Linked DNA regions of Homo sapiens: region 2 is linked to region 1. The links come from fine-mapping of genetic effects on gene expression. A gene starts in region 1. The other region holds a variant in brackets. All regions are shown on one strand. Distances are from middle to middle. Region 1 holds the start of GLA (galactosidase alpha). Region 2 has its middle 12 kb from the start of ARMCX2.

The links. PIP is the estimated chance that this variant, and not a neighbour inherited with it, causes the effect.
Region 2: its variant is fine-mapped to the expression of GLA in whole blood (TOPMed, PIP above 0.99).

The regions. Positions count from the first base shown.
Region 1 is chrX:101,406,761-101,409,614 of GRCh38, forward strand. It overlaps GLA (galactosidase alpha), which reads right to left and starts at 1,165. Exons shown (of 7, transcript NM_000169.3): 1 at 950-1,165. The coding sequence starts at 1,143. All of the region lies in intron 3 of RPL36A-HNRNPH2 (RPL36A-HNRNPH2 readthrough), which reads left to right. HNRNPH2 (heterogeneous nuclear ribonucleoprotein H2) reads left to right here and starts at 1,462. Exons shown (of 2, transcript NM_019597.5): 1 at 1,462-1,559.
Region 2 is chrX:101,646,166-101,649,083 of GRCh38, forward strand. No RefSeq gene overlaps it. Among named protein-coding and RNA genes, the nearest start is that of ARMCX2, 12 kb to the right of the region's middle. The variant C/T (reference allele first, on the strand shown) is at 1,455.

The sequences.
Region 1 (2,854 bases):
AGCCCTTTGAGAATTTGAAGAAAGGTAAATATCCTCTCTCCAGAAAAATACACATATTCATTCAGATTTGTAGATTTACATTCATTTTCCCATTGAACATTTGCTCTGTAAGCGCAGTTGAATGGTCAAGCGCTGTGCTATGTACTTTAAATAGGTTATCTCCTTGAAAACTCACCTGTGTGAGATAAGAACTATTTTTCAGATTTTTTTTGTCAGCTCCCTGAAATTAAAAGGTTGTAATCCCAATTTACAGATAAGGATTGTGAGGGTCAGATATGTTCAATACCTATCTAATCCAGCCTCAACCCTCACGCAAAGGTGTAAATGTATAAAGTTCCTCCATGTCAACCTTCCAGCCTGATGCCACGCTCATGGGCGAGGTGGGAGAGATCTCAGCGACCTTATGGTCTCTCTAACTCCCTCGAGATACTGCCGAGAAATCCACGACCCCAAAAGGAGAAAAAATGGCACGAATCTTAGTTCCCCATTCCTCCTACCCACCCTAGATGTTCTAACGGTTAGCACCCGGCAGAGGAAGAGCAGAAGTTCACAAGAAGGGTCTGAATAGAACCGGGCAGGGCTACTTTGGGCACACTGCCTATGGGGTGGCCCTGCTCTGCAAGGAGCAGTGAAAAAAGAGAACCGGGCAGGGAGAGAGAGAAAGAGAGAGGAAAGAAGAGAAAGAGAAAGAGAAGGAGAACGAGAGAGAGAGAGAGAGAGAAAGAAACAGGGGCCGCTGGCCGGACTCCCATCCCAGGAAAGGTCACACAGAGAAAGTTTAGGGCTAGTCCTGATTCGGGACAGTTTGCTGGGGATAAAAAAGCAGCAGCAGAGTCGGGTGGGGGAGCTCTCCCTCGGGCTCAACTGTTCCCGTTGAGACTCTCCAGTTCCCCAAACACACCCAAACACATGGAAAAGCAAAGGGAAGGGAGTACCCAATATCTGATACCTGATGCAGGAATCTGGCTCTTCCTGGCAGTCAAGGTTGCACATGAAGCGCTCCCAGTGCAGCCAGCCCATGGTAGGCGTCCTTGCCAATCCATTGTCCAGTGCTCTAGCCCCAGGGATGTCCCAGGAAACGAGGGCCAGGAAGCGAAGCGCAAGCGCGCAGCCCAGATGTAGTTCTGGGTTCCTCAGCTGCATTGTCACGGTGACCGGACAGCATAAATTTCCGCGGGTAACCTGGGCTTTTAAGATTAACCTCAGGGGCGGACCAATCACCGATGACTTATTAAATAATGACGTTATTGTTTCTCTGGCAACTGGGACGGTTATCCCCAGAGGTAGACCAATAATCAGTCACGTAAGACGTTCCGCTAACCAATCACCCTCTTCCTTTCTTGATATTGACCCGCCCTATTTCCATACCAGAAGGAAGTGCGGCACCTTAGTGATCCCGAGTTTAAGCCGAGAGTTGCTCACGTGACCGAGATCTCACATGACGTAGGCGCTCACGTGATTACTCGCTTACGTGAGCAGAAGTAGTTCTGGTCGTCGTCTACCGTCTCGCTATAGCCGTTTGAGGGAAGAAGGAGGAAAATTACCCGGTATCGTTAGAGGTTGGTGTGTGGGTGGGAACTGGGGACCCAGGGGTGGTGATGATGAAGACCAGAGCGGGGTTCGGGGGCCGCCTCCGCCTCTTTCGTTCTCTGCTTTCCCCTCCCCCCTCGCGCTCTCTCCCTCCTCCCCCCCATCTCAGTGCCGGGAAGCCGCCTGTGCTGCGCCTGGTGGGGAAATGGTGGACGCTCATGACTGTGTATGTGTTTTTGTATATCTGTCTGTCTGGGCCGGTCTCGGGGGACCCCTAAGGGTGACCGTAAGGCGAAAAACGTTTGAAAACCACGGCCCTGAGTTAAGAAAAACAGATACTGAAAATAGTGGTCTGAGTGCTGGTCTATCCATTCAGGCACTCAGTCTCCACTGCCTGATTGTCTGTAAGGGGAGGCCCCAAGTGAATTTTATCTGTAGAGTCACATCTAGGCAAATGCGTGCTTGACAAAGGCGCCCAATAAATTACTTTACTGAATAGAGTATTTGAATAATGTTTATTTTTCTGCTGATAACAACAATCTACATATTCAATTTCGAACATTTGAAAAATAACAATATAGTATAAAATTTAAAAATACACATAATTCACCACCCGGAGACGACTGCTCAACCTGATGTCGTTACAGTTTTTTAAAAAATGTGTATAACACACATATAAATACACAAATTCTTAACTCACAAAGAGTCCTGGTTCCCACTTTAGCCAGCAGTCCTGATGGCCTTCCCAGGAGACGCAGTAATGAAGTAGAACCTCTCTGCCCCTACAGAAGGGCTCTTAAGGAATAGAGCGGTGCAGGGAATTAAATGGGACGGGTTATCCCAGGGATAAGGCAAGCAAAAAAAAAAAAAAAAATCCTGCAAAATGAAATAAAAAAACAGCTTGTAAATCTGTCACTGAGACCTTAGGATGGTTAATAGGAAAACTGTTATCACTGCAGATGCAGTGTGCTAGGCACATAATCGGCAATCAGTAAATGTTTGTTAAATCGTTTCCTCAGTGTAGTTTTATGGCCGTTATTACACTTTGTACTTTGTTTCCAAGAGGCCCAGTGCTCCCAGACCATTTCAGATAAACCATCCACATACAAAATTAGAAAATTTTATAAAATTTCCTATACCAAATCCCAGAAATGCAAACATTTTAATTTGTTTTATGTTACTTTTTTTGCTGAAGTAAAAGTAATTATTTCTGTAGAAATTTAAGGCTGCATAAAAAAATTGGAAAAATAACATGGAAAATCCATAAACCTCCCACTCAGAGTAACCACTAATATGTTCTTTCTAACTTAAAAAGAAAAAATCC
Region 2 (2,918 bases), 240 kb after region 1:
AGAGCATTTCAGACCAATATCCCTGATGAACATTGATGCAAAAATCCTCAATAAAACTGGCAAACCGAATCCAGCAACACATCAAAAAGCTTATCCACCATGATCAAGTGGGCTTCATCCCTGGGATGCAAGGCTGCTTCAACATATGCAAATCAATAAACGTAATCCAGCATATAAACAGAACCAAAGACAAAAACCACATGATTATCTCAATAGCTGCAGAAAAGGCCTTTGACAAAATTCAACAACCCTTCATGCTAAAAACTCTCAGTAAATTAGGTATTGATGGGACATATCTCAAACTAATAAGAGCTATCTATGACAAACCCGCAGCCAATATCATACTGAGTGGGCAAAAACTGGAAGCATTCCCTTTGAAAACTGGCACAAGACAGGGATGCCCTCTCTCACCTCTCCTATTCAACATAGTGTTGGAAGTTCTGGCCAGGGCAATCAGGCAGGAGAAGGAAATAAAGGGTATTCAATTAGGAAAAGAGGAAGTCAAATTGTCCCTGTTCGCAGATGACATGATTGTATACCTAGAAAACCCCATCGTCTCAGCCCAAAATCTCCTTAAGCTGATAAGCAACTTCAGCAAAATCTCAGGATACAAAATCAATGTGCAAAAATCACAAGCATTCTTATACACCAATAACAGACAAACAGAGAGCCAAATCATGAGTGAACTCCCACTTACAATTGCTTCAAAGAGAATAAAATACCTAGGAATCCAACTTACAAGGGATGTGAAGGACCTCTTCAAGGAGAACTACAAACCACTGCTCAATGAAATAAAAGAGGATACAAACAAATGGAAGAACATTCCATGCTCCTGGGTAGGAAGAATCAATATTGTGAAAATGGCCATACTGCCCAAGGTAATTTACAGATTCAATGCCATCCCCATCAAGCTACCAATGACTTTCTTCATAGAATTGGAAAAAACTACTTTAAAGTTCATATGGAACCAAAAAAGAGCCCACATTGCCAAGTCAATCCTAAGCCAAAAGAACGAAGCTGGAGGCATCACACTACCTGACTTCAAACTATACTACAAGGCTACAGTAACCAAAACAGCATGGTACTGGTACCAAAACAGAGATATAGATCAATGGAACAGAACAGAGCCTTCAGAAATAATGCCACATATCTACAACTATCTGATCTTTGACAAACCTGACAAAAACAAGAAATGGGGAAAGGATTCCCTATTTAATAAATGGTGCTGGGAAAACTGGCTAGCCATATGTAGAAAGCTGAAACTGGATCCCTTCCTTACACCTTATACAAAAATTAATTCAAGATGGATTAAAGACTTAAATGTTAGACCTAAAACCATAAAAACCCTAGAAGAAAACCTAGGCAATACCATTTAGGACGTAGGCATGGGCAAGGGCTTCATGTCTAAAACACCAAAAGCAATGGCAACAAAAGCCAAAATTGACAAATGGGAT[C/T]CAATTAAACTAAAGAGCTTCTGCACAGCAAAAGAAACTACTATAAGAGTGAACAGGCAACCTACAGAATGGGAGAACATTTTTGCAATCTACTCATCTGACAGAGGGCTAATATCCAGAATCTACAAAGAACTCAAAGAAATTTACAAGAAAAAAACAAACAACCCCATCAACAAGTGGGTGAAGGATATGAACAGACACTTCTCAAAAGAAGACATTTATGCAGCCAACAGACACATGAAAAAATGCTCATCATCACTGGTCATCAGAGAAATGCAAATCAAGACCACAATGAAATACCATCTCACACCAGTTAGAATGGTGATCATTAAAAAGTCAGGAAACAACAGGTGCTGGAGAGGATGTGGAGAAATAGGAACACTTTTACACTGTTGGTGGGACTGTAAACTAGTTCAACCATTGTGGAAGTCAGTGTGGTGATTCCTCAGGGATCTAGAACTAGAAATACCATTTGACCCAGCCATCCCATTACTGGGTATATACCCAAAGGATTATAAATCATGCTGCTATAAAGACACATGCACACGTATGTTTATTGAGGCACTATTCACAATAGCAAAGACTTGGAACCAACCCAAATGTCCAACAATGATAGACTGGATTAAGAAAATGTGGCACATATACACCATGGAATACTATGCAGCCATAAAAAATGATGAGTTCATGTCCTTTGTAGGGACATGGATGAAATTGGAAATCATCATTCTCAGCAAACTATCGCAAGGACAAAAAACCAAACACCGCATGTTCTCACTCATAGGTGGGAATTGAAGAATGAGAACACTTGGACACAGGAAGGGGAACATCACACACCGGGGCCTGTTGTAGGGTTGGGGGAGTGGGGAGGGATAGCATTGGGAGATATACCTAATGTAAATGACGAGTTAATGGGTGCAACACACCAACATGGCACATGTATACATATGTAACTAACCTGCACATTGTGCACATGTATCCTAAAACTTAAAGTATAATAAAAAAAATTTCAAATACATGGTTTTTAAAACATATTACCTTGTTATGTATTTCTATCCTAATTGCATTTTGGTCAAATAAAGTGATTATTATGACACTGATTCTTGGAAATTTGTTGAGATATGTTTTATGGCCAAATTCATGATCATTATTATAAACAGTCCCTCTATGCTTGAGAAGAAAGTGTATTCTCCTATTATTTGGTTCAGGATTTTGTGTACATCCATTAAATCAGATTGTTGACCACATTGCTCAATATTCTATATCTTTACTATCAAGATATATTAATAGAATACTTTTTGTTCTCCTTATTCTTTAAATACTTTAGAGATGTTGTATTCTTCCGTGCGATTGTTGATTTGTTCATTTCTTTTTATAGTTCCATAACATTTTTCTTTATATATACATATATATGTTTTGAGATGGAATCTCGCTCTGTCATCCAGGCTAGAGTGCAATGGCGCCATC